Homo sapiens: one gene and its partners. The gene in region 1 interacts genetically with each later gene. Each region holds a gene or a part of one and is shown in the gene's direction. Other genes may lie near its edges.

Region 1 (2,394 bases):
TTGTTAGTGGAAGTCATTACCAGGGCTTGGATCCTTTCCTCAAGGTAGGGAAGCCCTGAGTTTCATAAACTCTAATGAAGTAATTTCTAAGTGAGAAATTCAGTTAGGGGACCATACCAAATCTCAGCCTTAGAGACCTGCCTATCAGCAAAGTGGCCACCAAACAGAGGCCACTGCTGCCCAGATGCAGCAAAACTGGTATCACAGGGCATGTGTGCTACAGGCTCGGCTGGCACTGAGCACTGTGCAAGCTGTGCCTCCCACACAGTCACAAGGAAGTTAGATTTGTATTTTCATATAGAATCATTTTTGATGGGTACACTGCCATCAGAGATTGTAGGAATCCAGGGGTGCTTAAAACATACAAGCGTGTATGTGCGCATGGGCACGTGAAAACATACACGGAACTGAATTTGGGTTTGCAGCATGGCTGGGAGACTTGGTTTGGAGGTTGAGATTAGAACCCTTGGTTTAGAGTTAGAATTGATGTGGGATAACAGGTGAGAAGGCTAGACTGAGAGCTGGAAGGACAGGATGCCATTCTGGCTCTGGTTTATATGAACTGTGTAGTCCTGGGCAAATAGCAAACCTACAAACTGCAGTGTTCTCAGTAGTGTATCTAATGAAATTATGAATATGAAACCCCTGGCCAAGCACGGTGACTCACGCCCGTAATCCCAGCACTTTGGAAGGCTGAGGTGGGCAGATCATGAGGTCAGGAGTTCGAGACCAGCCTAGCCAACATGGTGAAACCCCGTCTCTACTAAAAATACAAAAATTAGCCGGGCGTGGTGGCAGGCGCCTGTAATCCCAGCTACTCGGGAGGCTGAGGCAGGAGAATCACCTGAAACCAGAAGGCAGAGGTTGCAGTGAGCCAAGATCACCCCACTGCACTCCAGCCTGGGCAACAAGAGTGAAACTCCGTCTCAAAAAAAAAAAAAAAAAAAAACCTTTGAAAATGATAGGCTATTCAGATAGTTGATTATATAAAACTATATTTCTATCTGTAAAGGTAGTTTTTACTTACTAATCTTCCACTGATGTGGTAAAAACACGTAGAAGGAGCAGAAGTGTTTCTGCTAACACTGGAATACCAGGTGTCATTCAAGGGTTGGAAGAGATGAGTGCCCTTGGGTTGTTGGAATGATGTGACACCTTTTGGCTCTATAATAAGTGGTCTCAGAAACTAGGATACTTCTTGACTTGTGTCTGCTTTTAAGTTTTCCACTCTCAGCCTGTTCTGGAGCTGAAAGGAAGCTAGAGTCATATAGCCAAACCTTTGAATTTTAAAGATAAGGAAACTGAAGCCCAAAGAGACTGAATTGCATAGCAGAATCATGGAGCTGCTGACAGCACTGAGACTAGAATCCATGCTTTATGTCTCCATCCCCTTTCCCATGTGATCCTGTGTTCTTCCCTTTTCTTTTTACTCATGGCGGTACACCTATCTAATTTAGCAGTCTCTTACATTTCTTCTACCATTTGATGTAAGCCTAGAAACTGGAAAAGCAAACTTTTAAAAACGGAATGATTGAAGTTTTCTTTAGTAAAGTTTAAAAGTTAAAGTGTAATAAAAAAATTTTCTTTTGCTTTTTAACTTTCATTATGGCTACTCCAAGGTCATCCTATACCTTTTGAATTTTGGCCGTGCAGTTGGAAGGATAGAATTGCCATTAGCTGAGATAGGGGACACTGCAGGATGAGAAGTGCGAGTGGAGAGGGTAGGGCTTCAGGTTTGGAAATAGAAGTTTCAGATGCCTACTAGACATCAGTGGAGATGTTGAGTGGGCAGTTTGGACATTAGAAGTCTGAAATTCAGAATAGAGATTTGGGCTAGATAATAAACGTGGAAGTTGAAAGAGTGTAGATGACATTTAAGGCATGTAAATCACTAAGAGATCACCAGTGCATTCAGTATAAATAGAGAAGTCCGAGGACCAAGCATTCAGGCACTCCTGGTAAGACGTTGGGGAAATGAGGGGGAACCAGCATAGGAGACTGGAAATTAGTGGCCATTGAAGTTGGGGAAAAACTAGAAAGACACCCCTGGGAGAAACAGTGGTGTCCTGGAATCCAAGTGTTTCAGGGAGAAGGGAACAACTAATGGCGTCAAATGCTGCAGGGACTTGATAGATGAGTCAATATGGCTTCGAGGTGCTGGAAAGCAGCACACGCCTTTGGACGCTTAGCCCTAAGGTGGTAATCAGCACATGTATGCACTTTAAAAAAAAAATTGTATTACAAACAGATATTAAATAGAAGCATGTTTAAATTTTGGAATAAAAATGAACGGTAATAGACAAAAAGTGATTTAATGGGAAGATGCAACGTGAGCTGTACTTCAGAGTGAGAACCGTGGCTTGATCATAGATGTGTTGCTGTCAGAAATTAGAA
Region 2 (3,400 bases), on another chromosome or scaffold:
CTCAGCCTCCCGAGTAGCTGGGACTACAGGTGCATGCCACTATGCCCAGCTAGTTTTTGTATTTTTAGTAGAGATGGGGTTTCACTATGCTGGCCAGGTTGGACTCAAACTCCTGACCTTGCGATCCACCCATCTGGGCCTCCCGAAGTGCTGGGATTACAGGCGTGAGCCATCACGCCTGGCCTTATGTTGTCCTTTTACAAGTGTTTCTGGGATGTGCCCATGGTGAAGGCAGTAACGCCAGTACCTCATTTCACGCACTTGGATCCTGCCTACCCCCAGTAAGTGGGAGAGATTGGGCCAGATAAGACCACACCATTGGGCCAGGCACAGTGGCTCATGCCTGCAATCCCAGCACTTTGGGAGGTTGAGGCAGGTGGATCACCTGAGGTCAGGAGTTTGAGAGCAGCCTGGCCAACATGGTGAAACCCCGTCTCTACTAAAAATACGTGGTGGCACACATCTGTAATCCCAGCTACTTGGGAGGCTGAGGCAGGAGAATCGCTTGAACCCAGGAGGCAGAGGTTGCAGTCAGCTGAGCCGAGATCACACCATTGCACTCCAATCTGGGCAACAAGAGCGAAATTCCTTCTCAAAAAAAAAAAGTGAGTACACCATTGAATCTTCTGTTGTTTAGGGAGATGAGAAAGGTCCTGAAGTACCAAAAACATAATGATTTGGACCTTTCTCTTGTCCTCAACTCTGATTTGCATTTACCTTCAACTATCAAGTCACATTCTGCTGTCCGAAAATCCAAATCTAGTCTACTAGCTAGATTACACTTCATTAGAGGCAGGACTTTGGTTTGTCTATTTGCCTCTCCTTTTCTTTAGGTCATGATACAGTGCCTGACATGCGGTGCAAGCATGGTACTTGTATTTTGGTGCTGTCCCTGTAAGTCATCCAGAGGTATCCCCTGTAGGGTGTCTAGCACATAGTAGGTGTTTGTTAATTACTTCTGGTCTATAAGCAGTGAAAGCATGATAAGGTAACAGCAGTGAAGAAAAGTAACAAACAGTTCCTAAACTAGATACAGGATATCTGTTTAAGCCATTTAAGACAGCATTTTCTTGAATTTTTGCATGGGTCTAGCTAGAGTTCTTATGTAGCGTAAGCTTGCAACCAGAGAATGCTTAATAAATGTTAATTGCTGTCTGACTCCTCTGAATGTGGTGTGTGAACTGATACCTTTGGATCCTCATGCCTCATTCTGTCCCTGAGACTTATTCTAGATGTCACTTCCCCTACTTCACATTATACACGAATGTTCTGAGGACATTTGAGATGGAATCTAGCTCACATTTTCAGCACTAGTTTCCAAGGAACACAAAGAAGTCCAGTGACATGATCCAGGCTCTCAGCCTTACAGATCATCATGTAGATTAAGTGGCCGAGGCTCTTTCCTATGCAGAAACCTTCCTACAACCAAGGTACCCCTTGTTATTATTGTCTTCCTGCAACTTTCATAATTGATAAGGGAATTAGACAGGTAAGCTAAGCTAGGTATTCTCATTTATAATTTTTCAAAGCCACAAGAATAACCAGGAGACAGGGATGATGTCTATGGACATTGCTACCAGAGGACTGATTTGTAGGTTCTTATGGTGCCACATCATGTAATCCCCTTAATCTTGATTCCTTTATTCCTTTTGTTTACCATTTTCCTCAGTTCGCCCAACCAGAAAATAAGAAAAATAGCACTAACATTTATGAAGCTCTTAATATATGCAAGGTACTTAGCTGAACATTGTTTTCCAAAAGTTCTGTGTGATACAGATGAGGATGCTAAGGCTTAGAGATGTTAAGCAACTTGGTTAGCCCAAGGTCACGTGGCTAATAAGTGACAGACCCAGGACTAGGGCCTAGGTGGTCTGACTCTTTTTTTTTTTGAGACGCAGTTTCTTTCTTGTCACTCAGACTGGAGTGCAATGGCACGATCTCGGCTCATTACAATCTCCGCCTCCCAGGTTCAAGCGATTCTCCTGCCTAAGCTTCCCAAGTAGCTGGGATTACAGGCACATGCCACCATGCCTGGCTTTTTTTTTTTTTTTTTTTTTTTGAGACAGAGTCTTACTGTGTCTCCCAGGATGGAGTGCAGTGGTGTGATCTTGGCTCACTGCAACCTATGCCTCCTGGGTTCAAGCAATTCTTCCGTCTCAGCCCCCTGAGTAGCTGGGATTACAGGCGTGCACCACCACGCCTGGCTAATTTTTTGTTTTTAGTAGAGACAGAGTTTCACCATGTTGGCTAGGCTGATCTTGAACTCCTGACCTTGTGATCCACCCACCTTGGCCTCCCAAAGTTGCTGGGATTACAGTCATGGACCACCGTGTCCAGCCTAATTTTTGTATCTTCAGTAGAAATGGGGTTTCACCATATTGGTCAGCCTGGTCTCAAGCTCCTGGCCTCAGGTGATCTGCCTGCCTCGGCTTTCCAAAGTGCTGGGATTACAGGCGTGAGCCACCACGCCCGTCGTGACTCAGTGTTTCTTAACCTTTTATTTTTTTTTTCTCATCATTGCACCCCTAAGGAGAAAGGTTAAAAGTTAATGTAAATTAATTAAATTTTGGGGCTGGGCAGGAGCCTACCATCTTAAAGCTAAGCTGTAAGTAGGCCAGGGGCAGTGGCTCACGCCTGTAATCCCAGCGCTTTGGGAGGCCCAGGTAGGCGAATCATGAGGTCAGGAGTTCGAGACCAGACTGACCAACATGGTGAAACCCCATCTCTACTAAAAATACGAAAACCAGCTGGGTGCGGTGGTGGGTGCCTGTAATCCCAGCTACTCAGGAGTCTGAGGCAGGAGAATTGCTTGAACCCAGGAGGCAGAGGTTGCAGTGAGCCCAGATAGCGCCACTGCACTCCAGCCTGAGCGACAGATGAGACTTCACCTCAGAAAAAAAAAAAAAAAGCTAACCCGTAAGTAAAGAACAGAGCTGTGCAGATTGGAGGATTGGGTCATACCATTACTTGGTACCTTCCAGGAATATTTGGGTATCTATAAGGATAGTTTGTAAACCTTGACCTGATCCAGTCTTCTTCTTTTGCAGCTGAGGAGTAATATAAGTCCCAAGAGAAGCAACTTGCCCACATTTGCACAAGTCAGTAAGGCACAGTTTAAGCTATCATCATATCATGAGTTTCATAGCCTCTCTAAAGAGTTGAGAGTCCTGTTATTATGTCTAATATCAGGCCTTTGTCCAGGAGAGGCAGCTAGTGCCTCATTTTTACGAGGACATGAAATATAGATTACGTTGCTTACTTGGGTTCACCTAGCAAGCTATTGGTAGGCGGCTTCCTTGGTACACCAGGCTTCAGAGATGGAAGTGCTCAATGTAATGACTCGATACTTCTTTTCTAGGAGATCCTAAAATGTTAGTGTTAGTTGCAGAGATTTTTGTAG
Region 3 (3,662 bases), on another chromosome or scaffold:
CTTTACTTGATTTTTTATTTTATATATAAATCTTTTTAAAACCAGTTGATTATTTGATAATGCATATTGAGAATGTAATTTTACTAATATGCTAATAACATTGTCTTAAAGAAGCAATCAGAGGTAACAGAACTGTATATATAGTGTTGTTAATTACAGCACTATTTATAATAATGAAAACAAATTAGACAATGCGTAACTATAACAGCTACTTATATAAATTATATTTATATGGTAAATTATAGAAAATTACTTTTTTGAAGATTGGCATGCACAAAGCCTAGCCTATGAGAAATAGGGAGGAAAGTTTGCAAAAATATATGTATTTTACGATCCTAATTTTGTTTAGGAAAAAATGAACAGAAAGTGTGTGTTTCTCATATACACACACACACACACACACACACACACCCTCATTGCATGAGATAGAGACTGGGGATGCCAACATGCTAATAGTCATAATTACTGAGCAATAGAACTATAGTGACTGTTTTACTTTTCTCAGTTCTCAAAATTTTCTACACTAATCACATATTTTTATATAACCAGAAAAAAGTTTTATTTTAAAGTGGACCAGTTGTTCAAGGTAATAGATTTCTCAAGTGCATTCTGATTTTTTAAGCTAAAATCATTCCAGAAGATTGTTAACCACCCATATTTTACAAAGCACACCATCCAAAAACTAACACATAAGCTGGATGTATAAAAATACAACAAAAATAGGGGCAAATCTGGGCAGCGTTTATTTCTACATTTGGTGATTACTGCTCATTGGACATCTGTGCAATGAAGTAGCTATTAGTGAACTCACATTTTCAAGTTACTAGCTCATTAGCATGCTGACTCTGGCAATAACATCTGTTGGATATTCCTGCTGAGCACCAGCAACAAATATATCTAGAGACTAAACGTATTTGCCAGCCTTAACAGGTGGTCCTCTGTTAGAGGAGGCTGTGGGAGAGAGATAAGAAAGATACCTTTGATTCCCTTTTCATTTGAAACCAGTGAATTGTCATACCATTCACTATAGATAATATTTCACTTTTTAAAGTATCTGTGGTTGGAGCAAGTGATGCTTCAGAAGCTTAGATATGTGGGTCAACTGTATTCAAACTCTGTGGCATAATCAGCATTATTATTTCCTTTTTTAAAATACATTTTTAACATTTTTTCTGCAGGTAGCTGAAGGTAAATTAAATGATCATTTTCCTCTCGTGGTATGGCAGACTGGATCAGGAACTCAGACAAATATGAATGTAAATGAAGTCATTAGCAATAGAGCAATTGAAATGTTAGGAGGTGAACTTGGCAGCAAGATACCTGTGCATCCCAACGATCATGTTAATAAAAGCCAGGTCAGTATGTGAGCTTTGCTGTTTTTTGGTTATAAATTGAAAAGCATACCTGAGATTGTTCTTGTAAAACAAGCATTCACTTTTTGACAAGAAGTGTTCATTATTTAATGGATAAGGCTTCTTATGGTTCTTATTTCTTGAAGGAATCTTGGTTTTATGTTTCAATCCTTATAAAAATTATTTTTAGGACACCTGAATTTAGTGTATGTATTTTTTTATTGTTTAAAACTCTATTTTGAAATAATTTTAGATTTATAAGAGAATTGCAAAGATAGTTCAAATAGTTTCTATATCCCTTCACTCAGCTTCCCTTATTGTTAACATCTTATGTAACCATGGTACATTTATCAAAACTAAGAAATTAACATAGATACAGTACTCTTAGCTAAACAACAGACTTTAAAAAAAAAACAAAAAACTGAGGCTTTCCTCAGTTTTTCCACTCATGTTCTTTTTCAGGATCCAATCAATGCTATACATTACATTTAGTCACATGTCCCCTTGGTTTCTTCTAATCTGTGACAGTTTCTTGGTCTTTTGCGATTGTCTCAGTCCTTTGGGGCTGCAGTAATAAAATACAATAGACTGACTGGCTTATAAACAATAGAAGAAGTTAATTTGTCACAGTTCTGGCAGCTAGAAGTCCGAGGTCAGGCCACTGGCCAATTCATTGGCTTGGTGGGGGCCCACTTTTTGGTTTGTAGATGGCCATCTTTTCTGTGTCCTCACATGGTAGAAGGGACAAGGGAGCTCTCTGGGGTCTCTTCGTAAGGACACTAATTCCGTTCATGAGAGCTTTGCCCTATGAACTAATCACCTTGCAAAGGCCGCATCTCCTAATACTATTACCCTAGGGGTTAGGATTTCACATAGCAGTGACCTTGACACTTTGAAAGCAGTGGTCAGGTATTTTGTAGAATGTCCCTCAATTCTGGTGTGTCTGACGTTTTCTCATTAGATTGAGACTTTTGAATTTTTGAGAAAACTATCACAGAAATAAAGGGCCCTTCTCATTGCATCATATCAGGGGTTCATGATAGCAACATGACTTTTACTGGTGATGTTAACCTTAATCACTTGGTTAAGCTGGTACTTGCCAGGTTTCTCCATGGTAAAATTATAATTTTTCCTCTTCTATACCCTGTTCATTAGAAATAGGTCACTAAACCCTGCCTGCATTCCAGGCACTGTATTTCAGTTTCTAGAGGGAGGAGTATCAAAAAGTTTTTGGGCTTACATTAAAATCACTGTAGTAATTAATAGCGCGCTACCTTGAGGCTAGGCAAACATCTTCTTTTTCCTTAAACTTTTTCCTACTATTTTTAGCATTCATCAGGGAATCTTATCTACAGCAATTACTTCCATGGTGTTTTAATAGTGATTTTCAGTTTTCTTTATTCATTCTACACTTGTTAGTTGAATTTTTCTGCAAGGAAGATTTGTTCTCTCTGTCCCATTTATTTATTTATTCAGTTATTTGGGTATATCAGTATGGACTGATGGTTATTTATTTTATTCTTCAGGTTATGATCCCATACTTTTGTTTATATTGTTGCTTAAATTCTTTCAGCTCTGGGAACCCAATTCATTTGGCTCTTGTGTCCTTTTAGGCATGCCACCATCCTTTTACTTTTCTGAAGTGTGTTCCGACTTCCTGGTACTTTAAGATGCTCCAAGCTCATTGTCTTGTATTGTTTCTGCCCCAGCCCTAGAAACAGCCATTTTTCAAGGAACTGTTGGAGAATTCTTATTGGAAAATGATATTTAGAAACTGAGATCTGGGTGCTAAGTATAATTTAATATATTTTTAAGTAGTAAGGAAGAAGTGTTTTTAATACACGTTCATTGTATAAGGGATTTTCCCAATCTAATACTTGCCTTTATGAATTTATGTTCTATATATACTGAAGTCTGAAGTCTGCCTCAGAAAGGTAGAGTTATAGATGAAACGTGATTGGCTACATGTTGATAATTATGTAAACTATTTGAATTCAGGTGACAGGTACATAAGTGTTTATTATACCATTCATCCTACTTCTTTCGTAAGTACTTTATATTTTGCATAGTAAACGTCAAAATATATAAATAATGTATCTTTTTAAATGACAGTATACTTTTATATATATCTGTGTGTGTGCATGCGTGTGTGTGTGTGTGTGTGTGTGTGTGTGTGTGTGTGTGTGTGTGTTTAGAGATTGTGCTTCACTCTGTCACCCAGGCTGGAGTGCAGTAGAGTGAGCATAGCTCACTGCAGCCTGGAAATGCTGAGCTCCAGGGATCCTCATGCCTTAGCTTCCTGAGCAAGTG

The links.
Region 2: changes in ADPRM (region 1) and PHF5A together harm fitness less than expected from each alone (positive genetic interaction), as found in Homo sapiens cells (one large-scale study listed by BioGRID).
Region 3: changes in ADPRM (region 1) and FH together harm fitness less than expected from each alone (positive genetic interaction), as found in Homo sapiens cells (one large-scale study listed by BioGRID).

The regions. Positions count from the first base shown.
Region 1 is NC_000017.11:10,707,502-10,709,895, forward strand, and holds part of ADPRM (manganese-dependent ADP-ribose/CDP-alcohol diphosphatase), read left to right. Parts: intron 1-2,394. UniProt on the Homo sapiens protein: Hydrolyzes ADP-ribose, IDP-ribose, CDP-glycerol, CDP-choline and CDP-ethanolamine, but not other non-reducing ADP-sugars or CDP-glucose.
Region 2 is NC_000022.11:41,462,384-41,465,783, reverse strand, and holds part of PHF5A (PHD finger-like domain-containing protein 5A), read left to right. Parts: intron 1-3,400.
Region 3 is NC_000001.11:241,509,660-241,513,321, reverse strand, and holds part of FH (fumarate hydratase, mitochondrial), read left to right. Parts: intron 1-1,178; coding exon 1,179-1,355; intron 1,356-3,662. UniProt on the Homo sapiens protein: Catalyzes the reversible stereospecific interconversion of fumarate to L-malate. Experiments in other species have demonstrated that specific isoforms of this protein act in defined pathways and favor one direction over the other.